Regions from separate parts of the Homo sapiens genome. Here regions 1 and 2 are each reported to be linked to region 3. The links are microRNA targets in miRTarBase. Many come from high-throughput screens and were not tested one by one. Region 3 holds a microRNA gene; each other region holds the end of a gene's coding sequence. Distances are between the middles of the regions.

Region 1 (11,337 bases), 38 Mb from region 3:
CACTGGGATGATTTTATCATTAACAACCCAAAGACATTCCATGATACTAACTACAGCTTTGCACCAGTGAAAGCATCTGTAGATAGTTTTTGAATACAGAGTTCACATTTTACGATAGATGAACACACAAAGTATCTCTATTTTATGCTTCTGTTAATTTTCCCTAGAAGAACAAACACACATTCAACAAAAACCCTTATGCCTTATTTCTTTGGGTCTTAACATTTGTTATCTGAGAATGGAAAAGACAGGGACATGTGAAAAAAAAAAGGAGTATGTTTATCTGCATAGTTGATATTTAGAGGCTACTAAGGCCTTATCTGGAAAAAGCAACAAAAATCCAAAAAGTGACTTACAGACACACACACACACACACACACACACACACACACCCTATCATTAGAGATTCAGTGGACCTTAGCCAATTCTGGAAATTAACCAGATGCTTTGTCTGCTTGGACCTGGTGCTTTCTACTAACTCACTTGAACCTGGTAACACTGGTTCCTCATCCCCAACATTTTGCTTTCCTGACCCTGAATATGTGCTACAATTTAAATTTACACACACACTCCAACAATCGTTGCTCAGCATTTAGCCCCAACTAAAACTGCAGCATCCATTTTTCTTTTCCTGTTGCTATTATTTTAAACGATAACGGGAAAATTCTATGTAGTAGTACTACTTAATATACAGGGATGGAAGGTGGGATAAAATGATCTTCGTCTCCTCCTGGGAGCTGGGGAAAACATGTTTCCTTCTACCCTGACCTTCCCCACCCCGACCCAGTTAGAAAGTGAATCCTGCCTTCCGTCTCCCATTTTCTTACAACCTGAGCAGCTGATGGCTCCACCTCTTTCATGGGTTGAAGAAGCATGAATTACAAAGGTGCAATGGCTACAAGAGTATCCAGCTGACTGTGTGTAGTGCTCACCCCTTCAGTGCAGAGCTGGATACACCTACAGTTAATGGAATTAGTACACAATCTCTGATTTGCAAGAATGAGACATCATACTCATTCTTAGAAAGTTAAAAAGCTTAGCTATCCGTCCTCAAACAAGCAATAAAAGGAAATTAGACTGAGAAGATGGAAAAGTGAGACAGTTAAAACTTCCAGGATCATTTATCAACTCCAATAACCAAGCATCATAACTTTATCTAACTTTAGCTCCACAACCTTGACGAAAAATCACAGTAACACCGTAAAAGGCTAAAAAAAACTACTTAAACTTAGTGTTATTTCTCTCCCTTGTTAACCTGAAACTAAACATTTTATCCCACCTCAAAGATAATGTTTAAATAACAAATATGTATCTAAATTAAAATTCCAGTGATTTTTTTAAATTTAAAAACCATAGGGTGCTTTTTATACTCATTATAAGGAAAACATTTTTTAGCCTCTGCAGGAAGATGATAATACTATTTTTAATTATATAGGACATTTTACAAAAACTCAAAATATTTTTGAAATAGTAAAGTCTCTGATATCCCTGGGAGGTAGGTGAATATGATTATACCCAATTGTCTAATGGGTAATCTGAGGCACGAAGGTTAAACAATATTCCCCCTAGACATAGTCATTCAAGAATAACACTCGTGAATTCCAACTGCCTGGTAAGTTCTGCTATCAGGTAACACTACCAGGAGCTTCTGCTTTCTCCTTTTAAGCCACTAGTCTCTTCTTCTTCCCAATTAGAATGTATTGAAAGGGGGGCACTTACTAGGTATATTTGTACTGGGTCTGAGGGATGGTTCAACTTGGTCTCCCTTAACATGTCACATCTATTTGTTTTCAACAAAAAATCGATGAATCTTAGATACTGAAAATTATGTTATTTTGCTCAAGGGAGAAATCTAAATAACCATAAAATCAGATTAAGCCAAATGTAATTATCTAGCAAATAAAAAGCAAATGGAAAATCTCTCAAGAATGCTATAGATTATATGTTTTCCTCAGCATCTGAAGTCTTTCTACTTCTGAGTTTATTAACCTTTTAACAGATAGATATGCAGCTATATGATTTCTTCAAAAATCATTTTCCAGAAGAAAATATGATACATTTTTCATGTTGACAGTTGCTAACCTGCTTCTAAACTTAGACACCAAACTGCGGTTCTAACGCTAGCCTTGTCACATGTTTAGTCTAGCGCACCTTACCAATGTGACTTGCAAGGTACTCTTGTTATTCCAATGCTGTCTCCTATATTACTTATGCCAAGTTTAAAGAGCACAGAAAAGTGGGTTATATCCAAGAATAGTCAATGATTCACTAAGTTTATTTTACTTGTAGTAACTGACGTGTGTGTGTGTGTGTGTGTGTGTGTTGTTATTGTTAACTTCTACAAGCAGATATTCAAAGGGCGAAGGTGGCCTCTTGTGAAAAGATACTTTTCTATACTTTTATTTTCTTTTTTTGAGACGGAGTCTTGCTCTGTCGCCCAGGCTGGAGTGCAGTGGCGCGATCTCAGCTCACTGCAACTTCCGCCTCCCGGGTTTATGTCATTCTCCTGCCTCAGCCTCCCAAGTAGCTGGGACTACAGGCGCCTGCCACCACGCCTGGCTAATTTTTTGTATTTTTAGTAGAGACGGGGTTTCACCATATTAGCCAGGATGGTCTCGATCTCCTGACCTCGTGATCCACCTGCCTCAGCCTCCCAAAGAGCTGGGATTACAGGCGTGAGCCACCGCACCCGGCCGAAAAGATACTTTTCTAATCCACCCACTTTAATCAACTAAAAGCAATGGAATAAACAAGGCAGAAGTTTTGCAAACATGGAAAGGGGAGTGTTTGGAAAGGATGCAATGGTACAGCAGCTCCTAGTTTTATATATATGTAATGTATGTATCTTACACATATATCCATATACATAGAAAGCAAAGGAAGAGGGTTACACAGCATGACATGATGTTGACAAGTGTGAGATTCTTCCTCCTGAATCCCCTGACTTATCAGTCTGTACTTTAAGATAATGTGACAACAGTTTCAAAAGAGAGGAAAAAAGAAAGAAAAAAGGCACTTAACAAAGACAAAGGCCTGAATTGAGCATGTTTTAGAGGAGTAATATAAGCATTTTACCAGAGCTAAGAAATGATTTACAAAGAGTTAAACTTTTCCCCTTAAAATTTTATAAAATAAAATTGCATAACATGTTGTGATCATTTATCTACTACTGCACTTTTCTTCTGCTTCATTATTACAAACACAAAAGCCCCCTCAAAAGCAAAAAACAACAATCATACATGCACAATAGAAAGTAAAAGTGCCTCTTTTGAGAACATTAGGTCAGCAGAATTACAGTGCTGAAGCACAGGAAAGTTCTCAAGTTTGGCCTGATTATAGATTTTTCTCATTCTTCTATTTCCAACTTTAAAAAAAAACAAAAACAGAAACAAAACAAAAAACAAACAAAAAAAAAGCAAACAAATTCCAAACCTAAATAATAAAAACAACAAAGGGACCAGTGTGCTTTTACGGTACACTCCTAAAATAAAGTATCCTAATTCTATACATGAGTCAAACTAGAGGACAAAACATCCTAGAAATAAAGAACTGTAAATTAAAGTCAACCAATACAGGCAAAGTTCATTTTACAAATGTAGCAGCAAATATGATAGATCACTGGAGTTCTAAGAGATGATCCCAAAGGACGCAGAGTTCTCATAACCAATGGCAGTTTGAACAACAGCAGAATTTTCGTTTCAGAAAATGTCTTGAACCAAGTATAGGTGGAAAGGGGTGTGGGAGAGGGCAACCAGAGGACAAAGACTAGATTAGAGGTGCCTGCCCTTTCCAACCCTGGGTAGTAAACAATTTAGATCTGCTTTGGGAAAAAAATATCCTGGGTTAAAAATCATGTCCAATAAGTTGTTTTCAACCAGGTGTCAAACCCACAGTATTCCAACACATATGTGCCCGGTTCTTCCCCTTACCTTCCTGATTCAATAAACCCTATTCAATGTCCATGATATGAAAAATGTAATTTGGGCTAACAACATCCATCAGAGGGGGGGTGGGCACAAAAGAATGCACTATCACCATCTTCTAATTTCCGCAAAGTATCAGAATTTTATGACTACAGATTAGCCTCATTTCCTTTCCCAAAACCTTTTTCTTCAGGCTGTTTTAAAATCACGATTTCATTTACCCTCTGACCTCAAAAGCATACAAGAATTATAATTGAATTATAATGGAAATTATTGCTTGCATTTATTCTGGATGCTCTGAATGAGCTTGACACTTTGCTCCCAGTCTCCAACTGAGGCTCAGCACAGCTATCTCCGAGGACAACCCTGCTGACTGTTATTGCTTGTGAATACTGAGGATTAACTTGTATGTACAGTAACAGCTTATATATCAGTGAAGGCAATTTAAAATATAAAACAGTTGAAAACAAACAGCTTAATCTTCCTGAATCAAGAATCCCAAGGAGTGGGATATAATCATGTGTGCTGATTATTTTTGCATTTGGATGTTGCTAATGCTCTTCAGAAATACACGTTGCTCTATAGATATCCTTTCCAATGACTCACCATTTTAAAAAATAACATAATTTGATTTTTAAGTGCAAAAATACAGTATGAGTCACAAGTCTCTGTGCTAAAAAATAACCAATTTATATGTTTGTTTTTAGTAATAAAAACGGTAAAGACAGGTGACCATAAAGTATGGGCACCTTTTTCAATGTTATGATCTAGGAAAGAAATAGATTACTATTTACATGTAGAAACTCTCTGATCATACTTTATCTATACAGAAATACAACGATGTTTGACTGATTCATACAACATAAAAGGGGGGTCCTGACTGAAATGAATGTAAGTCGTCAGTGCAGGTGGGGGTTTAAGGTAGGGATCTGACAGTAGTCCTCAAGGAATCAAGACTAAAGAGAACACAGAAGAATCTCCACATTGTATTCTTGGAGCCAAGGGCCTTCAGATATTTTTACTGGTTAGTATAAAATGTTACAGGGAAAAGAACTGATTATCTTGTTCTTTTCTAATGATGACAGTCACCAGGGATCTTCATATGGCATGATTCAGAATTGATGGTTTTAAGAAATTCAAATGATTTTTTGACTCAAACTAGTCATTTATATGAATGTATGTGTGTATGTATATATACATACAGACAAACATATATACAAGTATTCAGGAAGAGAAATTAATACGCACTTCGACTTCTCTTGTGGTATGAGAAGTAAAACAAAGGCTACCTTCCCAAAGGAAAATCCCATCACTTCCCCTAGTATGAAGCAAAGACCTTTTTATTCATATTTCGTAAAAGCAAGAGGTCCACTACATTTGAAAAAATTAAAAAAATTGGGCAAGCTTCCTTAATTGAAACCAAGCAAATCTTCATCAAACATACTGAATTCAAGTCAAACCTCTCTGCAACATCCTCCCAGTATCCTTCCAAAATATCTACTGGGGTTCATACTACATCCATATTTGTTTTATTGATAAACTAAATTCTTAGAGTCAAGAAATTATATCAGTGATTCCTTTGAAATAATCCTTTCCCTTTACTGTAACAAGTTCTTGGAACTAAAGTTTTCAGTTATTTATTAACTTTTTCGCTATGAAGCAAGCCAATGTGACTTTGAAGTCAAAATATAGGCATACAGATCTGAACCGATCTGTGGTTATTTATTCACAGTCCTGTAGGGTATCTGGGACTTTTGTGTATAAAAGAAAAAAGGGCCTGGTTAATACTCTTAATTGAGTAAATCTAATGGTATAGGGTAATGTATAATAAACACATATGCAATAAATCTTGTCACTACCAGTCTATTTTTTTTAGGTTAGTGTCATTATAAATGGATGAAGCTTATACCATTTAGAGTTTACACCATTCTCTGATATAGTATGAAAATATTCAGAAGCTTAAAAAACTAGAATAATGCGGCAAAAAAACCCATCAAATCAAATGTATCCAAGGAGAACCATAAATTTTTCCCTTAACATCCTTTGTTGAATATGCTATTTGCATAAGGAAGCTATAATAACTAAGGAGTCTTATTTTCTGCAGATTTACTCACATACCAATACACTGAGTAAATAGTGAAGCTTTAGGATCTCAAATGCTCCAAACAATTTCACTACACTGGATACAGGGAGTAAAAATATGTCGTGATTGTGATCCTAATGTGATTCCTCCCTTTAAAATACCATCTTAAAAATTCAAAAACTATATTCATGCCATTTGAATGACCAATGAAGAAACATAGTGTACACTTCTACCTGTTTATACCAATAGCTAATAATCACCTGAAGGACCACTAGCTAAAAGAACAGAAGGAGAAGTTGTGAAGTTAGATGAACTGGGGAAACTTAGAGTTTATGTTGCTGCAAGGGCTAAAAGCAGCAAAGCAATAACCCTGTAAAGATCCCCATTTCTCAGGAGAAAAATGTGAACACAGTCACATTTTAACATCAAGAATGGAAATAAGAATTAACCAGTCAATACTAGATGCACAAATCACCTGAAGAAAAGAGTTAAGTACCTGCTTCTGAACGGAAGATGAAATTGACCCTTTTACAAAAAGGGGACATCTAGGTTTCATCTCTTAAGAGCAACAGGCTCAACTTCCTGATTTTTAAAAATCTAGATGATTTAATAATATATATCACTGTGCTAAAATAACTTTCCTGAAGGATCTTTAGTCCACTGATTGAGGGAAGTTGCTACACACTGGAGGAGATTCAAGTTTGTTCAGGATTTTCGAGGGTGTGCTATGCAGCTACTGTCTATCGGAGATAGAATCATTATTATTTCTTTTTGTGGCAAATCTGCTACACAGTCCATTCAAATAGACATGATCATTATTCCTGACAAACTGGCCTAATTCCAGTTTTTAATGCCTTTTATTACCAATTATGTCTGTAAGTGTTCAGATCCAACCCCCAGGATGGATGGAGTTTACCCAAATTCTCTTCACTTCCTTCTTCCTCCCCCGGGAAAAATCAAATTTGTATTTCTGTGGGTTTGACAACTGAGTCTCTTTCAAGTCTGTTAATACGGTAACTCTGTCATTCTTTAGAAGAGACCAAAGGTCACTAACTTTGCACAAAAGCATTTCTTCCTCCTGCACCTGGCTTTGCTCAAGTAATGTTTTCTTTTCTTTTTCCTCCTCACCACAGTGCTTGGGACGAGAGAATGTAAACATCGACAGAAACAGCAGCCCTATGACCACATAAGTACTTTCCCATCAGGTAGATTCCATCAGTCAACTAAACATTTCGTCTCCTTTGCTTGCTGGGCAGTCACTGAGATTTCCGTGGTAATTTAGTGTCCCCTTTACTTTGGCCTCCATCTGAGAAAAAGAGACGTTAAATTGGTATGGGTCCATATGTTACAAAAACCAGCTAACAAAAACAAAGCAAAAACAACAATTAACTTTTATCTTTTGTGGATGACATCTCTGAAAAGATATCACTTTTAATATCTTGCATGCCATATAGCATTATAGAGGTTGATAAAACATCATGGAGATAAAAACTCAACAACAATGATCCTCTTCTCTCAAATGACTGTGGTTTTCAGTGTTTTTTAAATATGATTTCAACAAGTATTTATCATTTACGTCCCAGCCAATTGTGTCAAATGCTGTGAGAGGGTTATAAAGGAACCAGAAGACACAATTCCTACCTCCGAGGGACCCACTACATCTTTCAACTCCTTTGGAAGACAGGTCAATTTCATTTTTTTTTTTTTGTAAGTGAAATAAAATTTCTTGCCAGGACACAGCATTTCATAATTCCTGATTATTTGTGTAAACAAACGTAGCAAACTTTTCATCTGTAGTGAAAAACATCCAGCTGAGTGTGTGCTCATTCTAACCTAGCTTTAAGTGACAGGAAAGTCTGCTACTGGGACAAGGCTCTTTCCTTTTTTTTTTTTTTTTTTGAGACGGAGTCTCGCTCTGTCGCCCAGGCTGGAGTGCAATGGCGCGATCTCAGCTCACTGCAACCTCTGCCTCCCAGGTTCAAGCAATTCTCCTGTCTCAGCCTCCCGAGTAGCTGGGATTACAGGCGCACACCACCATGCCCGGCTAATTTTTGTATTTTTAGTAGAGACAGGGTTTCACCATGTTGGTCAGGGTGGTCTCAAACTCCTGACCTCATGATCCACCCTGCCTCAACCTCCCAAAGTGCTGGGATTACAGGCATGAGCCACCACGCCTGGCTCTTTCTTTTTTTAAGAGAGAGTCTTGCTATGTTTTCCAGGCTGGAGTACACTGGCTATGCACAGGTGCGATCATAGCACACTATAGCCTCAAATTCCTGGGCTCAAGAGACCCTCCTGCCTTAGCCTTCTAAGTAGTGGGACTACAGGTGTGTGCCACCACACCAGCTCAAAATAATTTCTATTTTTACATACTGCTGTTTAAATGCTTGCAGAAAAAATGTTGATTACTTCATTTAAGCCTCAACTAAATTACCTACAAAAACTGGACAGGAGGAGAGGAAAGGGGGATACCAGGGCAAGGGTAAGGCCCAATGACTTGGAAAGCCAACAGAATATGGAGAAAGTCTCCAACAGGTCATGGCCTTAGCAAGAAAAATGAGGCCTCAAAGACAACCCATGCCTGACAGCAAAGGACAGGAGAAGGAAACCTTTTACTCTGAGGGAAGAGGCATGAATAGCAGAAATACACAGGTGAAAAGGAACAAATTTGACCAGGGTTTGGCAAACTACAGCCCATAGGCCAAATCTGATTCCCTGCCTGCTTTTGCACATGAAGTTTTATTTACAGTCATACTCATGTGTTTAAATACTCCTTATGGCTGTTTTTCACTACAATGGTCAGTTGAGTAGTGGTGACAGAGACCATATGACCTGCAAAGCCTAACATATTTACTATTTGGCCCTTTATAGAAAAATTTTACTGACCTTTGTTTTAGACTAAATAAAATTAATCAACATTAACTGAGCTCTTACTATGCACCAGGTGCCAAGCTAGAAGCTTTAAATCAATTATTTTTTATTAGATTCTCATATGAAGTCATTAAAAAACATTTGTTGTCTCCAGTTTACAAGCAAGAGAAAGTGATGGTCAAACAAGCCTACTCAAACTGGCAGTTCTGGAATTCAAAAATCCAAGTCTGATCCTCAAGTTCAGTGACTTACACTTTAAAATGTTTCTTAAAGGAAAAATTTTAAACTTTTTTTTTTGGGGGGGACAGACTCTCACTCTGTCACCCAGACTGGAGTGCGGTGGCACAATCAGAGCTCACTGCAGCCTCAACCTCCCAGGTGTAGGTGATCCTCCCACCTCAGCCTCCTGGGTAGCTGGGACTACAGGTGCACAGCACCATGTCCAGAAAATTTTCTGTATTTTTTGTAGAGATAGTGTTTCACCATGTTGACCAGGTTGGTCTCGAACTCCTGGACTCAAGCCATCCGCCTGCCTTGGCCTCCCAAAATGCTGGGATTACAGGCATGAGCTACCATGCCTGGTTGAAAAATTTTAAACTTTTTAACTTTAGTTATTTGGAAAATACTGACAGTCATATTTCCTTTCTCCCCTCGGAATAGCAGTGCTGCACAGATAAATTTGATAGTTCGTGTAAGAGCGAACACTGGGGTCTTTTTGAGCCACAAGAATCCTGCTTGTTTAATTCCTTGCAGGTGGCCACATTCATGCCAATCTGCCCATGAGTACACTACCCTCAGCTGGATTCATTATACCAAGCAGCTGTCTACACCCAGGGGGGGACATGCTTTAGTCACAGGGAAATTCTCTTTAGATATTTAAACTAGTCAGAGTTCAGGAAGATCGGGATTGCTGACATTTGTGCCACGACTCTGTGTTACCCATTTTACACAACTGTGGTTTTATACTCATTCTCAAGGTTAAGACTGAGACAGCTCACCACTTAGGTCTTTCAGAGGATTAATGGCAATCTGTTGCCTCAAGATTGCCCCTCAGTTCCCATCTCTGCACTGTGGTTAATGGTAAACTGGTTCAAAGGTCATTTTTAATGCAGTGGCCAAAAAAAAAAAAAAAAGTGAGGCCTAGTCAACTTCCAAAGTTAAGAGGGCAGCTAAGCAGTTATTTCTGCTCAAAAGATCCTGAAAATGGGCTTCAGAATAATATCAGTGTCTATGGAGGTAGACTGCTGGGGAAAACGAGAAGCTGGAGCCCAGTGTGTTATGCACATTGCCTAATCTGACTGCCTAATGTCAGATTTCAGAGCGATCTGGCTGCCTACAAGGACATAATGCATACAGCTTGGATCATATTAATTTTTTTTTTGAGACGGAGTCTTACTCTGTTGCACAGGCTGGAGTGCAGTGGCGTGATCTCGGCTCACCGCAACCTCCACCTCCTGGGTTCAAGCAAATCTTCTGCCCCAGCCTCCCAAGTAGCTGGGACTACAGGCATGCGCCATCAGGCCTGGCTAACTTTTGTATTTTTAATAGAGACGGGGTTTCACCATATTGGCCAGGCTGGTCTCAAACTCCCAACCTCAGGTGACCTGCCCACCCTGGCCTCCCAAAGTGCTGGGATTACAGGAGTGAGCCACTGTGCCTGGCAGGATCATATTAATTTCATCTCCGCTAAAATGCCAAGACATTTAATCACTAAGAATACAGGCCATGGAGTCAGACTTCCTGGGTTTGTATCTCAGATCAAGCATTTGTTATCTGGGCAAGTTGTGTATTATCTTGGGCAAGTTGCTTAGCTCTCTGATTCAGTTTCGTGATTGGTAAAATGGAGATCGTCATCTATCATTCAGGGGCTTGCTGTAAGGATTAAGTTAGCTAATCCACGTAAGCTGTCACAAGACTGGGGCATTTAGTAAGCTTTCAATAAATGTAAACTACTATCATTACTGTACATAACTTTTAACTATCTTATGAATCCTCTGATTAGTCGTCATTTCCACATAATAAACACCTTCAAAAAGGCTCTTTTTATATGTTACAGATCTCATCTACCTATTTCCTTCCTCTTAAAAGGAATCTGTTGCTAATGAGGAATGAGGATTCAGTCTATGAAAATTTGCATTTTCCAACCTTTGTCATTCCATTCACATTGTTTTCAGAAAAGTATAATCCATATCTATAAGCCTATACAAATAAGAAAGAGATGAAGGAGGTGGCGTTCTCACCGTGAAATGCTTGCTGTAAGTGTGCAGGCAGAGGTGAGTGGGAAAGCGTTGCTGCATGCTGAGCTCCTCCTGGCTGTAAACCCTTTAGTAAATCTGAGAGGAAAACAGACTTGTCAGTCATCTTTAAATCCAGATTTGAGCCCTTTTAGTTCAAAAATGAAAACTGATTTATGTAATGCAGGCACAGCACCTGACTTCGAAGGCCTTCTAAAACTAGAGC
Region 2 (11,337 bases), not on the chromosome of region 3:
TAGGAATATCAGCAGATTAGTAACTAATAATAGAACAATCATAACAATATACTCTAGTAAAAGTTGTGTGAATTTGCTTGTTTGCTTGCTGTCTCTAAATATTTTATTGTACTGTACTCACCCTTCTTTCATACTACAGTTGACCACAGGTAACTGAAATTGTGGAACATGAAATTGAGGATAAGGAGGGGACTACTGCAGTCAGGATTTTAGTCATCTATTAACAAAAAGAAATGAGTTTCATGGGAAATCATTCCATAATTAAGCTAAATCATCCTATTCACTTTTATTTTTTTTGAGGCGGAGTCTTTCTCTGTTGCTTAGGCTGAAATGCAGTGACTCGATCTCAGCTCACTGCAACCTCCACCTTTTGGGTTCAAGCAATTCTCCTGCCTCAGCCACCCAAGTAGGTGGGATTACAGGTGCCCACCACCACACCGAGGTAATTTCTGTATTTTTAGTAGAGACGGGGGGTTTCACCATGTTTGCCAGGCTAGTCTTGAACTGCTGACCTCAAGTGATCTGCCTGCCTAGGCCTCCCAGAGTGCTGGGATTACAGGCATGAGCCACTGCGCCTGGCCCTATTCACTTTCTTGAGAGTTAATTCAGAAATGTCTCTGAACAGTCATCAGTGGCTACTGCCACTGTCCTTAGACTATTTCTCTTGTTTTCCAGGCAGTCACATTTAAAAAGAAAAAAAGAGAAGAGAGTCAGAATTAATTATTCTCAATTTAACAAACAAAAGGAATGATTTTATTTCACTTTCCCATATTTTTGGCTAAAAATACTTACTACCTATTTGTGGTCATTTATTGGAGACTTTCAGAGAAAAATTGGCAGAAACTGATGAATAATCAGTGAACTAACATAGATACCATTAAAGAGAATGTACTTGTGCAGTGATAGAGCAGACTTGAGAACTTGAGTTATAGTTAAAATGGCACAAGCAACTTGCCAGGGCTTCATGTAGTTCATCATTTTCCATTCTGTTGGTCATTCATGAGTAGATCAACAAATATTTCTGGAAGTCCCTGCTGTTTTCCAGGCTTTGTGCCTCTCCAGAAGGCACTTGCCCAGTGGAAACCAGCAGAAAAACATTGGTACCACAGTGCAATACATGCTACCTATGAGCTATGCACAGTGTAAGAAACAAGAGAAGGTGAGATTTAGGTAAGCACTTCTAGAGGCTCTAAATCTGGAAGGCAGCTTGAGTAGGAGTTGCTCAGGGGCTGTGGGGCTTAATAAGCCGTAGGAATTTGTTCAGAGACAGGGGAAGCAAAGGAGCTAATATATTTATAAATCTCCAAGTACTCAAACCTTGCCATGCCAGAGTCTAGATGCCATGAGAGAGTGGTACAGGATAAAGCTGTGGTTATGGGCTGAGGCTAATTCTTGCAGGGCTTTGTCGCCTTGTTTGGGAGACCAGGAAGTCTCTATGAGAAGTGGAGTAATGAGTGATTGTGTTTGAATAACATATGAAAACATATTTTGGTATGCATACCTTTCAACCCAACAGTTCCACCTCTAGTGAACTGTTAACATTAAAAGTTCTTGCATACAAGTTCCCAAAAGTGAGCAAAAATGGGTGCATGAGGTTTTTTCATAGTAGAAAAAAATCTGGAAACGAGCAAAATTTGTATTTACAAGATGCTGGTCAAATAAATCTTGAGGTGACCATATATGTAATTAAATGCAAGGCAGTGATTTTTTAAAAATCAGATAATTCTATATCTTAAAGTACTGTACAAAGATATTTTTTGAGTTAAGTTGTGGGAGTGGGGCTCTTACGGTGTCTCACATTTCAAAAATCTGAATCAACTGGCAAAATATTACCATCTGTTACACATATACAGGGAGTACATGGTTTCTGTTATGTTATTCTCTGTACTTTATGTTTGAGAAATTTCATAAATAGGGAAAAAGCAAGTCACAGGAATAAGTACAGTGTTGTTGGTATACAAAAAGTTTTATGTACCTACATAGTTGTATAGACGTGGAAAATAGCTGATAGAATATCCACCAAACTGAAGCTATTAGGAGGGGGAAAAGATGAGCAGAGGTGAGAGAGAGAGTACGTTTTACTTGCTGCTTTCTGTACTTTGATGGTGTTTATTTCTTGTCTAACTCAGAGAAGAGACAGGCAAAAAGTGCTGATGAGGAGCAAACAACTGACATGGCACAGTGCTGCCCTGAGTAGGCTAGGAGTGACAGCAGTACCCAAAGCAGAGGGTCCCTCACACTAGTAACTACAAGCTGGGTCCTGCTGAGATGGAAATGAATCCCACCGGACAGGCACTCCAGGCTGAATGGCAGTTAAACCTGTTCCCTTGTGTGGCAAGCTAAGTCTCTTTGGAGTTACCTTAAAATTCATTGCCCTTATTTACTCAATAAAGATACCCTTCTCATAAATAATTACAGTTTCTCTTAGAGGCAGTGGTTCTGTTTGTCTCAAGATCAGTGATCTACACATTGTATTTGTGTTTTTCCCTAGAGAATTCAGCCTCAGCCCCCAGATGAAGATGGGGATCACAGTGACAAAGAAGATGAACAGCCTCAAGTGGTGGTTTTAAAAAAGGGAGACCTGTCAGTTGAAGAAGTCATGAAAATTAAAGCAGAAATAAAGGCTGCCAAAGCAGGTAGGTCTAAAAGTAATCTGGTTTTTCTAACAATTTAAGGAGCCCAGGGTATGAAATTGTTTATTTTATTTAGTAGTGTGGTGTGTTTCAAGGTGGCAGTTCCGGGTTCAAGCCTTAGCTTTGACACTTACCAGATGTGTAACCTTGAGCAAGTTATTACACCTCTCAGCCTCGATTTCCTCATCAGTAAAATGGAAATAATTGTACCTATTGGGTTGTTACCAGGATTAAGTGTGAATTTAAGTAAAAGCATCCTATTTTTTTTTTTTAAATAGATGGTTAGACTTATAAACCAGTCAAAAAAGGTGTATTTCATTACTGCCTGAAGTTTGGTATGATATGTAGTATATTTTTCATTATTTCTGAACATTTACTACATTGCTTTAGGGGAAAATGCTGTAGTTCCAAACAGTCACTTTTCAAACTACTTAAAAATACAACCTGATTGTAATTGGGAACTGACAATATTATAGAATACTTTAGCATGTGAGTTTTTATTAAGTAACTGCATGCCTTGAGGGCAATATAGCTAGAAACAATGGAGAAGACCAGACTGAATCAGATTCAGGGATATCCTTAAATACAATATGAGATTTTCTTATTATTTGCTTCTAAGGTAAAGGCAAAATAATGAGGAGAAGAAAGTTCTTAAAAATTCTGTTTTTGCTCAGATGAAGAACCAACTCCAGCCGATGGAAGAATCATATATCGAAAACCAGTCAAGCATCCCTCAGATGAAAAATATTCAGGTTTAACAGCAAGCTCAAAAAAGAAGAAGCCAAATGAAGATGAAGTAAATCAGGACTCGGTCAAAAAGAACTCACAAAAACAAATTAAAAATAGTAGCCTCCTTTCTTTTGACAACGAAGATGAAAATGAGTAAGTGTAAATATTTTGAATTTAGTCTACTTTGAAAGTATATGGAGTGTTCATTAAAATCACATTTTTTCCTATTATAAAGATACTACAAGTTCTTTATAGAAAGTTTAGGAAATAGAGAAAAAAATTTAATAAACTACATCTATTCATCAATACCCCTCTGACTTAAAATGCCAACTCTATAGAAATTAGCTAGTATTAACATTTTGTTATTTCCCTTGTGTGGTTGTATATATATGTAAATTATATTTTTAAGCAAAATACATTTTTTGTGTGTAAACAAAATTTTATAAATACAACTGTATTGCAAATGTTCTTTGTCCTGCTTCTCACTTGACATTGCATTACGAGTATTCTTCCAGGTCAGTAAATTTCAAAAACCTGACATTAATAGCTACAGATAATTTCATAAACATCTCATTGTATCTTTTTCATTAGCAATAGCTCCACTTTGGGTGGGGGAGATGATAATGTGCCTTGTTAAAAATACCTCCCCAACTCCTGCTAAGGGTGGCCATGAGACTCAGCTCTGGCAAGTTAAGAAATACAGGTGGAATTCTGCTTGATAAAGCTGCTGGGTTTTTTGTTACAAAAGGACAGACTTGGCAAACATGAGCCTTTGCTCTTATCTTTTCATCCTACTTGGAGTGCAGAGATAAAACCTGAGTACCAGAGCCACTTTTAGGCATAAGGAAGGCAGCCATGTGCTTTGGGTCATGTTAGTAAAAAGACTCAGAGCTTGGCTCCTTGCTGACATGCCTGGAGGAGCTGCTACACCAGCTTGGATTGCTGACCTCTGACTTCTTGGTAGTGAGAAGAATAAACACTGTGCTTAATTAGGCCTTGGTCAGGTTTCTTTTATATGCAGCCAAATGCAGTCCTAAGTAATACAATAAATAACTGGTCAAACTGTTACTGGTGGAGGGTGTCCAGGTTCTTGGCATTTTGGACAAATAATTGAACAAAACGCACAAAGCAATGAATATCCTCTAGAGGTTTGCCATTGGTTACTTGGCGTACACCCTGTGTAAATGAAGTAGTGGCCCGTGACCTGTCTGATTGGTGCAGAAAGTGACCAATCAGAGGCTGAAGTGAAGTTACAAAGTTATACTCCTGTGTAAATGAGGACTTGGCCTATGACCAGTCTGATTGGTTGCAGGAGGGGACCAATCAGAGGCACTTTCATTTTTCATCTGCAATGCAGAAAAGGCAAGGGGATTGCAAAGGGAGTAGCCTCTGATCCTTTTGTTACTTAGGTATGGAGAGGTGGGGTTTTCCTTTTGATTCAGTTCTAGGAAGTCAATGTGAATCAGCCTTAGGTTCCCTGTCTCCAGACCCTATTCTCCTGCCTCATTTTCCCCCTGAGAGACGTGATCCTCGTAAATCTTTATGGGAGGCTGAGAGACTGAGGGTCTTTCTTCTGTAACTGCTTCATGCTAACTTGGGACACAGTCCCTACCTATTGGAGATCACGTAACTCTCACCCTGCTTTGTCTAGGGGAGACAGGGTAGCTTCTTGATGGCCGGTGGTGTCTTCTCCTGAAACTGGCTAGAAATCTTGTCACATGATCATCTAACTTGGTGGTCTCTAGGCAAAAGGAAATGGATTTGGTTAAAAGATTTAACAGATATGGTCCAAAAACCAAGGCAAATATAATCATTAATAATGGGCTGGCCAAGGGAGGGAGCCATGAAACCCAACTTAGTGCCCTTTAGGTGCCCCAGCTGTTGTCATATTTTAGAGGCCCAGTCAGCTAGTTTTCAGGTGGTGTCCCTTACTAATCCTGATTGGTTGACATCAAAACAGCATTCTTCTTCTAGGAAAATACATAAGCCACCTGTTTCAGCAGTTAGGAGATCTAGTCCCCTTCGATTTTGCAAAGCGACCACTGCCAAGGAGCCTATCCGAATTTGTAAGGTGACAATACTTTGAGCAATGTTATCCAGGCTTTCCATAAAATCCTTGGACAAGCGTTGGTAATAGGATAGGGAAGTTGCAATCCCGCTAACTCCCATTCCTACCTCTGCTGTTATTCCTAGCCGTTGTGTCTGGTGGTTGCAGTTAAAGGTATAATGAGGGATTGGTTGTTGGGAGCTATATTAATTTAGGGACATACAATATTTCTGTCTCCAGTCTACCACTTCCACCAAAGACAAATCACAGCAGAACCGACCTAACTTCAAAATAAACTGCAGTCCCATATACTGGGCCTGATTACCCACACAAAGTGCAACAAGAATCATTGTCCATATAGACTCTCCTAGATTGGCTTTGCTAGAACATTTCACAAGGCCATTTCAGTCAAAGTCCTGAGAAAGTAACCGGTTTCAATTGTGCCCTATTACAAAAGAAAACGTGGTTATTAACTTTATACAGACAAATGCCATGAATTAAGAATATTCATAAATAGTTTACAAATTCTGGAGAAATTAGAATACTCAATACACTTAAAGTGTATTTCAAGGCTATAAATAGCTCAAAATAAAAAGATTATTCAGACTCTGAAAAAACAAAAAGAAGTAGCAATATTTCAAACAACAAAAGCCATACAAATTATTTCAGTCTTCCATTAGTTCATTTCAGTCCATGTAATCAACTCCTGCTCTACTTCATATTCATCTTTATGAACACATCAGCCTTTCAATTAGTGCCTTGGAAGTTTTCTGTCTAATCCAATGGCACACTCTCCAAAGTTACCAGAAACCTGCATTCAAGAGTTCTTTTCATGAACTCCAAAGAAGTAAGCCTTGGACTGTAGCTGATTATAAGTCACTTTTTTTTTTTGAGAAGGATCAGAGCAAAACATCAATTATGGATGACAAAAGTCTTAAGACAGCCATAAAGACACAGTTGACAAATGTGGCTATTTCTGTGGCTTACAACAATTTAACATAATCATTACAACATATATTAAGACATATCAGAATTTTAGAACTCTCATACAATCCTGGAACACATATTAACAACAAATCTCTATCAGTATAACCCAAAGGAAGCTAAACACCACCTCACACTTGACAATGTTTCCTGTATAATTCAAACATTACAAATAAGCCTAATATAAGCCTAATATGTCACTCTTGAACTTCAGGAAGCCTAATATCCAAAAAGTTAGTTTAAGGTCAAAAGTTTTTGAATTAACTTTTTTCCATTAGTATGGTCATATCTTTCTTACTAATTTGTAAGTTATGTAATTTATCAATTTTTTTTTGTTGTTCTGTTTCCCAACCTCTATGTCAGATAAAGAATCACCCAGGCCAGACACAATGGCTCATGCTTGTAATCCCAACACTTTGGGAAGCCAAGGTGGGAGAATTGCTTGAAGCCAGGAATCTGAGCCCAGCCTGGGCGACAAAGCAATACCCCTATCTCTACAAAAAATAAAAAATAGCCAGGTGTAGCGACACACACCTGTAGTCCCAGCTGCTCAGGAGGCTAAGCAGGAGGATGGCTTGGGCCCAGGAGTTCAACGCTGCAGTGAGCTATGATTGCACCACTGCACTCCAGCCTGGGCAACAGAGTAAGAACTGTCTCAAAAAAAATAAAAAATAGAAATAAATTTTAAAAAAAGAATTACCCATATTCTCTTTGTTTTTGTTTATTCACATTAACCTTTATTCTATCTGGAATTTATTAGAGTATACTTTTTTCTCAAATAATCAATTGTCCTAGAACCATGTGTTTCTCATTTATTTGAAAGGCCATCTAGTGAGAGATTTCTCCAAATGTTGGGGTAGGGAAGGGAGGGGAAGCACTTTAAAGTCTGAGCCTTTAGAGGTGATTCCTCAAGACCCTGCTTAATCCTAACAATTTTCCTCATTAGTAAAAGTCAGCCCAAACTGGGGGCTTGTTAAGATCCTTACCAGCCACATCCATCTGAAATTATGAATTTCAAAGTATCTTACAAATTTGGTGCCACATTATCTTTTTTAAGTTTGTTTTGTTTTGTTTTTTTGAGACAGAGTCTCGCTCTGTCACCCAGGCTGGAGTGCAGTGGCGCGATCTCAGCTCACTGCAAGCTCCGCCTCCTGGGTTCACACCATTCTCTTGCCTCAGCCTCCCAAGTATCTGGGACTACAGTCGCCCGCCACCACGCCCGGCTAATTTTTTTGTATTTTTAATAGAGACGGGGTTTCACTTTGTTAGCCAGGATGGTCTCAATCTCCTGACCTCATGATCCACCTGCCTCGGCCTCCCAAAGTGCTGGGATTACAGGCAGGAGCCACCGCGCCTGGGCCTTTTTTTAAGTTTTAAGTACCTATAAAGAACACTGAAAGGTGATGTGTGTGGATGAGCTAGGAAGACCTGAAATAGGCTCTCTCTAAATTAATCAAATTAATCCTGAAGCCATTCTGCAATACTGTCTTTAATGTATACTCACTTGTTATAGAAGCCAGGGTTTTTTCCCCTAATTTGTATCATTGCTATATGTGTTATTGTACCAAACTACACTGTTTTAATTGCTGTAAATTTTAATATGTCTTAGTATCTGGGTGTGGGAATCTTGAAAGCATGGAGTTTGTGTTATTCACCACTGTATTCTCAAATATCAGAAGAGTATCTGGCCTACTAAGTGCACAATAAACATAGTTAAAATGAATGAGAGTGTTGTCTGTAATTTTCTTTTTATAGATGAGTAGGTCTCATGTGTAGACCCTGTACCATCAGCATCAGAACCCCTTAGAAACCTAAAAATTAAAATCTTGGTCCTTGCCTGCTGAATCAGAAACTGTATGTAAGGCCCAGTAATCACTGTAACATGCCAGCCAGGTGGTTCTGATATTCACTCACGTTTGAGAACCACTGATAAAGACTATAGTAGTCCTCCCTTATCCATGGGGAATACATTCCAAGACCTCCAGTGGATGCCTGAAACCACAGGTAATACTAAACTTTATATGTAGTATGTTTTTTCCTATATGTACATACCTATGGTAAAGTTTATAAATTAGGCACAGTAGAGATTAACAATAATAATACAGTAGAACAATTATAACAATATACTATAATAAAAGTTATGTGAATGGTTTCGCTTGCTAACAACAATAAAATAGAACAATTATAACAATATACTATAATAAAAGTTATGTGAATGTGGTTTTGCTCACTCTCTCAAAATATCTTGTTGTACTGTAACTTGGGTATAAACCACAGAAGAAAAACCATGGAAGACTACTCTATTAGAACTATAATAAAAAATGAAATGGGCCAGGTGCAGTGGCTCACACCTATAATCCCAGCACTTTGGGAGGATGAGGTGGGGCAATAGCTTGGGGCCAGGAGTTTGAGACCAGCCTAGCCAACATGTTGAAACTCCATCTCTACTGAAAATACAAAAATCAGCTGGGCACAGTGGCTCTTCCCCGTAATTCCAGCTATTCAAGAGGCTGAGGCAAGAGAATCACTTGAACCCAGGAGGCAGGGGTTGCAGTGAGCCAAGATCACACCACTGCACTCCAGCCTGGATGACAGGGTAAGACTGTCTCAAAAAAAAAAAAAAAGATGAAAAATGTAAACAAGGAATATGAAAAACGTTTAAAAGTTCTTAAATCTTGAAACACATCATATTGGTGAAGGCTTTACTGCAGGTGATATTTCTAGCAATGTAAACATAAAAGCTATCAGCCAGGAAGCACATCTTGTTATGAAAGACAAAGACCAAGACATGGTGGCACCTGAGATGTGCTTACCATCCTTAGGGAAACTGCTTCCTAAGAACAGTGGGTTCTGTTAACTGCAAGATCTATTTTGCTAAGAGTGGTGAGTTTGGAGTCAAGAGAAGAGAGGCTCAAAGAAGAAAGACGAGGCCTGTTTCCTCATGCTGCTTCTAAGCAATGTTGAACATGTATTTGAAGCTCCAGAGTAAAAATAGTAAATTTTGGTGATGTCCACCTGCTAATTCTGCAGGCTTGCAGGAAAAAAAAAAAAAAAAAATGTGATGTTTGCCAGCCTCCACCAAAATTTCAAAGGATGGCTGCCCAGGCAGAGACTTGTTGCAGGGGTGGAGCCGCCCCCAAAGAGAGTGCCCCCAGTAGAGCAACACCGAGCAGAGATGTGGAGCTGGAGCTACTGCAGAAAGTCCCAACCAGGGCAATGCATCGTGGAGCTGTGGAAGCAAGGCCACTACTGAGAGTCCTCACTAGGGCCATGCATAGTGGAGCCATGGGAACAGAACCATCACCAAGAGCTACAGAATCACAGGCAGTATGCAGCACCTGCTGGGGAAAGCTGCAGGCACCAGACTCCATCCTGTAGGAGTAGCCATGTGGGCTGCACCCAGCAATGCCATAGGGGTGGGCTTGCCTGAGGCTTTGGCGGCCCAATCCCCGCCCCAGTGTGTCCAGGAGGAAGCACATGGAGGCAAAAGGGATTATTCTCCAGCTTTAAGATTTGGCCAGGTGCAGTGTCTCATGCCTGTAATCCCAGCACTTTAGGAGGCCGAGGTAGGAGGATCACTTGAGGTCAGGAGTTAGAGACCAGCCTGCCCAACATGGTGAAACCCTATCTCTACTAAAAATACAAAAATTAGCTGGGTATTGCTGGTGCATGCCTGTAGTCCCAGCTACTCCGGAGGCTGAGGCAGCAGCGGCAGAATCACTTGAACCCTAGAAGCGGATGTTGCAGTGAGTTGAGATCACACCACTGCATTCCAGCCTGGGCAATACAGTGAGACTCCGCCTCAAAAAAAAAATAATAATGTCTACCCTCCTGGGTTTCAGACTTCCTTAGGGCCTGTTACTCCTTTCTTTTTGCCTATTTCTCACTTTTAGAATGGGAATCTGTCTTTTTCCTGTACCACCAATGTATCTTGAAAGTAAATAACTTGTTTTGATTTTATAGGCTCATAGATGAGACTCTGGACTTTGGACTTTTGAGTTGATGCTGGTTGTTAAGACTTTTGGAGTTACAGGGTTGTACGTGAGAAAGACGTGAGTTTGGGGAGGCCAAGGATGAAATGCTATGGTTTGAATATTTGTACCCTCCAAAATCATGTTGAAATTTAATCCCCAATGTAGCCTTTAAGAGGTTATTAGGTCATGAGGGCTCTGCCCTCATGAATTGATTAATTCATTCATGCATTAATGGGTAAATAGGTTCATGGATTAGTGGGCTCTCATGGGAGTGGGGCTAGTGGCTTCATAAGAAGAGGAAGAGAGACCTGAACTAGCATAATCAGTCCCCTCACCATATGATACACTGCATCAGGACTCCAGAGAGTCTCCACCAGCAAGAAGACCCTCACCAGATGTGGCCCCTCTACCTTGGACTTCTTAGCATCCAAAACTGTTAAGAAGTAAATCCCTCAGACCAGGTGTGGTGGCTCACACCTGCAATACTAACATTTTGTGGGGCTGAGACAGGAGAATTGCTTGAGCCAGGAGTTTTGAGACCAGCCTGGGCAACATGACGAGACCCTATCTCTACAAAAATGAAAGCATTAGCTAGGCACAGTGATGTGTGCCTGTGGTCCCAGCTGCTTGGGAGGCTGAAGTGGAGGATCACTTGAGTCCAGGAGGTCAAGGCTGTAGTGAGCCATGTTTGCACCACTGAACTCCAGCCTGGGCAACAGAGCAAAACCCTGTCTCAAAAATAAATAAATTCCTCTTTTAAAATAAATTACCCAGTTTCAGGTATTCTAAGTAACAAAAAATGGATTAAGACAAGCTTGAACTGCTCATTATAAACTTTCTTTTCAACCTTTAACCTAATAGTTGGACATCCAGTTCTTTTTTATAAAACTCCTTATGTGATTCTTATGTATAGCTAGGTGTGAGAAACAGAGCCACTAATACCCAAACCACACCTACATTAATTAAATTG
Region 3 (8,241 bases):
GCGCGTATGGCGCGCTTCCTGGGGAGAGTTCCAGGCGCGTGTCCCGGAGCGCGCGCCCCTGCCGCCCCCGGCCCCCTCTCAATTCCAGGCGCGTATGCCCGACAGCGGGCCCCTTCCCGAAACCCACAAGTTCGGGGAAGGAGTGTCCTCCCCCAAAACACACCTAGGCGAGGCATTGGCACCCCTGTCCAAGGCGTACCAAGGCGTGGCCGCCCCGTTCCCCAAGGCGCGCCGGCCGGAGAGCGCACTCCTGGGCGGCTCCGAGGCGGGCGAGCGCCTTCTCCAGCAAGGGCTGGCGCAGGTGGAGGCCGGGCGGCGGCAGGCGGAGGCCACGCGGCAGGCCGCGGCGCAGGAAGAGCGGCTGGCCGACCTCGCCTCGGACCTGCTGCTCCAGTATTTGCTGCAGGGCGGGGCCCGGCAGCGCGGCCTCGGGGGTCGGGGGCTGCAGGAGGCGGCGGAGGAGCGAGAGAGTGCAAGGGAGGAGGAGGAGGCGGAGCAGGAGAGACGCGGCGGGGAGGAGAGGGTGGGGGAAGAGGATGAGGAGGCGGCCGAGGCGGAGGCAGAGGCGGAGGAGGCGGAGAGGGCGCGGCAGAACGCGCTCCTGTTCGCGGAGGAGGAGGACGGGGAAGCCGGCGCCGAGGACAAGCGCTCCCAGGAGGAGACGCCGGGCCACCGGCGGAAGGAGGCCGAGGGGACAGAGGAGGGCGGGGAGGAGGAGGACGACGAGGAGATGGATCCGCAGACGATCGACAGCCTCATTGAGCTGTCCACCAAACTCCACCTGCCAGCGGACGACGTGGTCAGCATCATCGAGGAGGTGGAGGAGAAGCGGAAGCGGAAGAAGAACGCCCCTCCCGAGCCCGTGCCGCCCCCCCGTGCCGCCCCCGCCCCCACCCACGTCCGCTCCCCGCAGCCCCCGCCCCCCGCCCCCGCTCCCGCACGAGACGAGCTGCCGGACTGGAACGAGGTGCTCCCGCCCTGGGATCGGGAGGAGGACGAGGTGTACCCGCCAGGGCCGTACCACCCTTTCCCCAACTACATCCGGCCGCGGACACTGCAGCCGCCCTCGGCCTTGCGCCGCCGCCACTACCACCACGCCTTGCCGCCTTCGCGCCACTATCCCGGCCGGGAGGCCCAGGCGCGGCGCGCGCAGGAGGAGGCGGAGGCGGAGGAGCGCCGGCTGCAGGAGCAGGAGGAGCTGGAGAATTACATCGAGCACGTGCTGCTCCGGCGCCCGTGACTGCCCTTCCCGGTCCCGCCCCCGCGCGCCCCCGCCGCGCGCGCGCGCCGGCGCCCCCCTCCGTGTTGCCCGCTCCCCCTCGGTGTTTGCATGCGCCCCGGCCCTGCCCCTTGGCCCTGCCCCTGTCCCCGGGCTGCGTCGGGACCTGCCAGACCCCCCTCCCGGGTCCTGAGCCCGAACTCCCAGAGCTCACCCGCGGGTGACCGGGGGCCAGCCCAGGAGGGCGGGTGGTTTGTGCGAGTTCCCTTGCCACGCGGGGCCCCGGCCCCATCAAGTCCCTCTGGGGACGTCCCCGTCGGAAACCGGAAAAAGCAGTTCCAGTTAATTGTGTGAAGTGTGTCTGTCTCCAGCCCTTCGGGCCTCCCACGAGCCCCTCCAGCCTCTCCAAGTCGCTGTGAATTGACCCCTTCTTTCCTTTCTCTGTTGTAAATACCCCTCACGGAGGAAATAGTTTTGCTAAGAAATAAAAGTGACTATTTTATTAGGACTTTGTTCTCGGTTATTCACCCGTCCCCTTGGGCCTGTGTGGTCCTTCCCAAGGGGCGGTGAGGGAAGCGCCAGCCACAGTCCCCGTCTCCTCCTGCTTCCTGCCCCCAAACTAAGGCAAGGGGTAAGTGGGGAAAGTCCTCAAACTGTTTTTAGAGGAGAAGAATGTGGCTCGCACCCATTAAGAAACCCGAAATTCCACTTCCAGCTTGGGGGCTGGTGGTAAAGTCATCTTTCCCCAGGGCTTGACAGAGAGAGGCCCAGCGGAATGCAATAAAAGAGCCAATTGTCTGCGATCAGTCCAGCGACCTCTGGTTCAAAAGAAAAAGGCGACCCGCAGAAGGTGCCACAACTCTGGGTGCCAGTGGGCTCCTTTTTCCCAAGATCCTGGGGCCGCGCGGGTAATGCCGGAGTTTCCTGTGTTCACCCACCCACCTCCCTCCACTGATCCCTACATTCCTGGTCCTAGGTACTTTGCAAGAAATGCGGGGAGGAGGGAGTGGCAGCCACAGAGACATGCTGGCTAAAGCCACTTCTTAACTTTTTTTTTTTTTTTTTTTTTGAGACAGGGTCTCACTATGTTGCCCAGGCTGGAGTGCAGTGGTGCAATCACAGCTCACTGCAACCTCGACTTCCTGGGCTCAAGTGATCCTCCTACCCCAACCTCCTGAGTAGCTGGGACTACAAGTGTGCACCATTATGCCCAGCTAATGTTTGCATTTTTTGTAGGGATGAGGTTTTGCCAGCTTGCTCAGCTGGTCTGGAACTCCTGGGCTCAAGCGACCTCCCCACCTTGGCCTCCCATCTTAAGCCTTTTCTAATCGCAGGTACTTGTGAACTGATTCAAATAAAACTAAACTGGGCAAACGAAATCACCCACAACAGACCCGCATCCTGAAGAGTTGCTCCTCCTTCCATAAAGGCAGCTCAGGGAGTTGGGGGCAGCCCGTTTGGAGACGCATTGGGCATAAAAATCCGTTTAAGGTAGGGTGGCCAGATAAAATACAGGAAATGAAATCTGAAATTCCAGATACACAACAGATGCAGTTTTAGAGTTAAATGTGTCCCAAACACTGCATGCAACACATTTATCCCTAAAATGATTTGTTGTGTATCTGGAATTCTCATTTAACTGCGTGCTCTCCGTTTCTTCCCAAGGCTGGCAGGATCCCCTTGGCCTCCCGATGATGCCAGCAGCCCTGCCTTCCTTCACAGAGCCCAAGGCCAGCAAAGTCCAGAAATGCTTTTACTTTTATTTCAGAAGAAAGGACATAAAGGCAGACACTTCCCCCTCCCCCTCCCCACCCCTCCCAGCTCCTGCCTCACCCAGAACTGGAGTGAAAGGCCAGGGCCAGGACCAGGGTCCCATAAAGCTTGCCCTTCCCCCAACCCTTCCTTCCCTCAAAGTGGCAAGGTTAGAAAAAAATTAACTATGTTGTTCCTCCCTGGCACTGGATAAAGGCCCCACTGCAGCCAAGGAGAAAGAGGGGGGTCCAGGCTCCCCTCCCAGGCAGAGAAGCTGCCTGGCTGGCTAGGGGGAGGGTGGAGGTAGGTTATGGGACAGAGAGGACAAGAAGTGCCCTGAACACCTTTTCCCTTTAACCTGACATATTTATATATTTACAGTTATTAGGGAGGGAAGGACATCTGGGGTGACATCAGTTCTGCAAAGGCAGGGAATAAAAGCCAAATAGCACCCCCATCTGGGTCACATTTTCCTGCCTCCTAGCTTCTAAAACCTTCAGTGGGAAAAGGGGAAAGTGGAGGTAGGGGGTGGAGGGAGGGAATGTTTGAAGGGCCTGAGCCCACAGCTCACTCCGAAAGGTGAGGCAGCAGAGGAGGGGCAGCCGAGTCCCACCAAGAACAGGGCCCTGGGCAGAGGAGAAGCAGCCGTTCCCGCCACGCTGCCAGGACCCCATCGCCACACCCCGGCCCAGCAGGGGCTATGCCAAACCCATCTCCTCCAGCACACTCCGTGGCGACTCATCCTCCTAAGGCAGAGACAGACAGAGGGTGACGCAGAGACACCAGGAGAGGCCGACAGGGTGGGCAAGACAGCAGTCACGAGGAAGAGTCAGACGGGGGAGGCACAGACACGGGGGAGGGGGAGAGAAGCCAATGTGAGCCCAAGGCCGGACCAGTGAGCCCTTCATGGGGCACCCACCAGCCTCCCAGGGCCAGCCCCAGAGCCAGCCAACAGTGGCAGGGGGGGTCCAGGTTGAGTCCGTCACCACCCAGAGAACCCAAAGCCAGGACCTTGGTAAGCAGGGGCCCCGCCTTGACACCTGGGGGTAAAGGGAGTGAAGCCGGGACAAGGAGGTGGGGGATCTTTCTGGGGCCCTGGGGGGTACAGCTGACTGGGTCCTGTTTTTCAGAGTGGGGAAAAGGCAGAGGGAGGTGAGTGCCAGGTCCCTGAGGGAAGGTGAACCAGGCTGCAGGGAGATGCGTCATTAGGGTCTGAGCGCAACACTGGTGACACGATGGGTGTGTGTGCCAGGGCATGTGTGTGTGTGTGTGTGTGTGCGCGCCAGGGTGTGTGTGTGTGCGTGTGTGGGAAGGTGAAGCTCGACCAGTGAGGTGGCAAGTTCAGTTCTGCCCTCTCTCCCACTGCAAAGATGAGCCCTCCCTCGCCCCCCATCTCTCCCCCTCCTCAGAGCCAGCTCAGGCCGGGCTCGCTCATCACTGCAGATTCCGGTGACTCATCTCCCTGCACCAGGGCTCGGTGATGGCACAGCAGAGAGGGGGCAGGCAGTAATGGGGTGAGGGCGGGGGCGCTGGGGAGCAGGGAGAACCAACATCCAGGTGCCCTCTGCCAGCCCCCAAATCCCCATAGCCTTTTCCTCCTGAGACGCAGAGGCTTTGGAGTATGTGTGTGTTAAAAAAAAAAAAAAGAAAAAAAAAAGAGAGGTGGGGGAAGAAATCAGGGAAGAAAAGAATGACCTACCAGGTGCCCCTTCTCCAATTCTCCAAGCAACCCTTAACTCCAGAGCAAACCCTTAACCCTTTGGTGTTAAGCCTTGCTCAGAGAATTGGACAAAGGAGACTGGGTGGCCACGAGACATCTGGGGGCTTGGGAGAAGGACAGAGCTTGGAATGAGGGGTGCACAGGTGGGCTATCTGCCACCCTACCTCCCACCCCATGGGGTCAGGGCTTGAGAGTAAGCTGGAGAGCTGGGCGTGGTGGGGGTCAGATACCACAGGGAGGGGGGGCTCCTTGGCGACGGTGGGCAGGGCAGGCCGGGTGTCCAGGGGAGGGAGGACCCTGTCCGCCACTGTGCGCTTCCTCCTCCTCCTCACTGTCCCTGGCCCGTACCTCTTGCAGTAGGTCAGCCTGCTCGATGGCTTTCAGCACACTCTTCTTGGAGGTGTCCTGGACATCCCCCCCCATCAAAAACTCATCCAGGATGAAGTAGGCCTTCTCAAAGTTGAAGATGATGTCCAGCTCGCACACCTGGGAGGGCGGGGAGAGGCTAAGTTGAGCATGGAGGGGCAACTGGAGCCACTTCCTTTTCAAGACCGTGCCTCCCACCTTGGGTTCTGCCCCCAACCTCCAAGCCTTAGTCATTGGTCAGCTTTTTCAGTTTTTTTGTTTCGTTATTTTGTTAGAGACAGGGTCTCTTGCTCTGTCGTCCAGGCTGCAGTGCAGTGGCATGATCACAGCTCACTGCAGCCTCAAACTCCTGGGCTCAAGTGATCCTCCTGCCTCAGCTTCCTGAGTAGCTGGGACTACAGGTGCATGCTATCACGCCCACCTCATTTTTAAAATATTTTGTAGAGATAGGGTCTTGCCATGTTGGCCAGGCTGGTCTCGAACTTCTGGCCTCAAGTGACCCACCTGCCTCAGCTTCCCAAAATGCTGGGATCACAGGCGTGAGCCACCGCGCCTTGCCTTGGATCAGTTTTTTTCCCTCTTCCTCTTGCATCTTTCCTCCTGATCATGAAACATTAGTTGCCTTATCTACCTTTGTCTATGGTTCCCCTTGCCTTCCCCCCAAAATCTGTGACGTTCTTCCCACCAAAGGCTGTGGTAGCCCCGCTTCCTGGACACTGTGGGGCAGGGAAAGAGGGAATTCTGGACCATGGGGTGGAAGACTTGAGTTCCAAGCAGGGCTCTGCCACTAACCATCTAGCTAAACAAGTCATGAAACATCTCTAAGTCTCAGTTTTCTGGCCTCAAAAATGGGGATACCAACACCTACTGCTAGGATGGGATAAGGAGCAAACGAGAGGACGCAAAAGCACTTTATAACACAAATTATGGAGTTACTACTACGCCCCATCTAAGATCTGAGCTGTCCCTCAGATAAGTTAATTCAGAATCTCTGGGAGTGGAACCTGGACATTGCCATTCAAAAAAATTCTCCAGAAAACTCCAATGCAAATCCAAGATCAGCAACCAGTGATAAAAATCTGAATATGGGGCTGGGTACAGTGGCTCACGCCTATAATCCCAGACTTTGGGAGGCTGAGGTGGGAGGATCACTTGAGCCCCAGAGTTAGAGACCCAGCCTGGGCAACATAGCAAGACCTCATCTCTTAAAAAAAAAAATACAAAAATTAGCTGGGCATAGTGGTGTGCACCTGCAGTCCCACCTCCTCAGGGGACTGAGGCAGGAGGATGGCTTGAGCCCAGAGGTTAAGGCTGCAGTGAGCTACGATTGTGCCACTGCACTCCAGCCATAGGCGGCATTCCTCCAGGTGATAGGGTGAGACTGTGTCTCTAAAAAAATAAAAATTTGAACTAATCAAAACATCTGAACTTGGTCTCTGTGTGAAAAGTCCGAGCTAAGCTCTAAGTGGAGATTAAGTGCCTGATCCTGCCCCCAGTTTCCCCACTCAGGGACGATTATGGGACATGGTTAATAGGCTTAAAGCTTAAAAAGGGAAATTAATTACTGTTCTTACTGCTCCAACTTCACCTCTCCCCTGAAACTTCCAGGGCAGAGACTGGAGGGGCCTCAAAGTTTGGTGGATTACCAAAGGGGATTGCTGGGAATGGAAACTGGTGGGCAGAGGAGACTTACACTGCCAAAGTATTTGTCTAAGAGCTCCACGTATCGGTGGATCAGCTCCAGTGTGATGAGCTCATTGTCTTGGCCCTCGATGGCGCAGCAGAAGTAGAGGCTGGCATATCTGCGGAGAGGAGCGCATGAGACATCGCTACAAGCTTGCTTCAGGACCCAGGCATTCTGGTCTCAAACCTCTCACCAGCCTGGAGGTGGTCTGTGCCCTGGCTGGCCACAGGTGAGGTGGCCCTAGGGCATGTAAAGAGTAACTCACCTGCCTCTTTGTGCTGTCTTAAAAACATGCAAAGAACGCATGCTTTTTCCTTCCTGCCCTCTGACCTCCTAAGTTTGACTCAGCAAAAACCTGAGCCAAGTAATTTACCTGCTCCGAGGAGAAGGAACCGGAAAGGGTGTGTGTGTGCGTGTGTGTTAGGAAAAGTAGGGCAGGACCTTTGACTGCAAGGGACATGCGCAGTGGGGCAAGACAGGGCCCAAAGGGACACGTGAGTGAGGCAGGTGTTGCACGTGAGCAAAACCAAGTGGTAAACAAGAACTTCTTTAAGAGTTTGGGGAGAAAAAAAAAAAAAAAAAAGGAAGCTGACATTCATTACTGTCCTCCAGATGTCCTCAGCTCCCAGGTCTCCCTGACCTACAGGACGACCATTTCTCAGACATTTTAACCCACTGCCCAACTTGAATCTAGGCAGGTCTGAAAGTAGGTGGGGAGTCACCTCTTATAGACAACTTTGAGGTCCCTCCACTCCAGGAAGCTGCACATCTTGGGCTTTCGAGCCAGGACAACCTGCATGAGCTCGCGCACCATCTTCTTCCGTTCCTTGTCCGAAGTGGCCAGGTACCATTTTTGCAGCCGCAGTTTTCCCTGCCGGCTGAATAATAGCATGAACCGCATCTGTGGGGGATGGGAGGGCAGAACCGAGGGTAACCACACATTCCCCAAACTTATCTCCAGCTAATTCTTCTCTACTTTCTTCCAACATCCAGCCCCTTGCTCTCAAGGCTGGGTGTTTCCACCAGCAGGGGGAAGTCAGAGCTTCTGAGTCTGTCAGCTGGGTTCAAATCCTGGCTCTACTAGTTATGCAAGGCCTTGGCCCAATTACTACTGTAAGTCTCTGGGCCTCAGTTTCCTTATGTGTAAAATGGACATTGTACCTGCCTTGCACAGTTGTTAGGTGAGACTAAATGATTTGATATATGCAAGTCCCTAGCACAGGCAGGCAGTATAACATGTTAGCTATTATTATTATTATTTTTGAGACAGAGTCTCTCTCTGTCGCCCAGGCTGGAGTGCAGTGGCGCAATCACTGTTCAGTGCAATCTCCGCCTCCCAAGTTCCAGCGATTCTCCTGCCTCAGCCTCCTGAGTAGCTGGGATTACAGTCACGTGCCATCACGCCCGGCTAATATTTGTATTTTTAGTAGAGATGTGGTTTCACCATGTTGGCCAGGCCCTGGTCTCGAACTCCCGACCTCAGGTGATCCACCCACCTAG

What was found. The annotated mature microRNA hsa-miR-4653-3p reads UGGAGUUAAGGGUUGCUUGGAGA and lies in region 3 at 4,690-4,712, opposite strand. An mRNA with a match to its seed (bases 2 to 7 or 8) in the 3' UTR can be bound and repressed. Matches are read on the target gene's strand: a 7mer-m8 pairs with bases 2 to 8, a 7mer-A1 pairs with bases 2 to 7 and ends in A, and an 8mer does both.
Region 1: miRTarBase lists UBN2 as a target of hsa-miR-4653-3p. Seed matches in the 3' UTR shown: 7mer-A1 at 6,913-6,919 and 7mer-A1 at 3,620-3,626.
Region 2: miRTarBase lists KIAA1143 as a target of hsa-miR-4653-3p. Seed matches in the 3' UTR shown: 7mer-m8 at 5,522-5,528 and 7mer-A1 at 6,245-6,251.

The regions. Positions count from the first base shown.
Region 1 is chr7:139,293,762-139,305,098 of GRCh38, reverse strand. UBN2 (ubinuclein 2) reads right to left here. Exons shown (of 18, transcript NM_173569.4): 17 at 11,118-11,210; 18 at 1-7,312. The coding sequence ends at 7,263. Among named protein-coding and RNA genes, the nearest start is that of TRR-CCT4-1, 41 kb to the left of the region's middle. RefSeq lists a silencer at 10,357-10,525.
Region 2 is chr3:44,745,523-44,756,859 of GRCh38, reverse strand. KIAA1143 reads left to right here. Exons shown (of 3, transcript NM_020696.4): 2 at 2,492-2,636; 3 at 3,308-8,116. The coding sequence ends at 3,519. Among named protein-coding and RNA genes, the nearest start is that of KIAA1143, 10 kb to the left of the region's middle.
Region 3 is chr7:101,155,995-101,164,235 of GRCh38, reverse strand. It overlaps MIR4653 (microRNA 4653), which reads right to left and starts at 4,763; the gene lies at 4,681-4,763. AP1S1 (adaptor related protein complex 1 subunit sigma 1) reads right to left here. Exons shown (of 5, transcript NM_001283.5): 2 at 7,464-7,642; 3 at 6,751-6,859; 4 at 5,040-5,177; 5 at 2,960-3,717. The coding sequence ends at 3,670. It overlaps VGF (VGF nerve growth factor inducible), which reads left to right. Exons shown (of 2, transcript NM_003378.4): 2 at 1-1,727. The coding sequence ends at 1,240. RefSeq lists silencers at 499-638, 799-848, 1,409-1,498 and an enhancer at 6,676-7,875.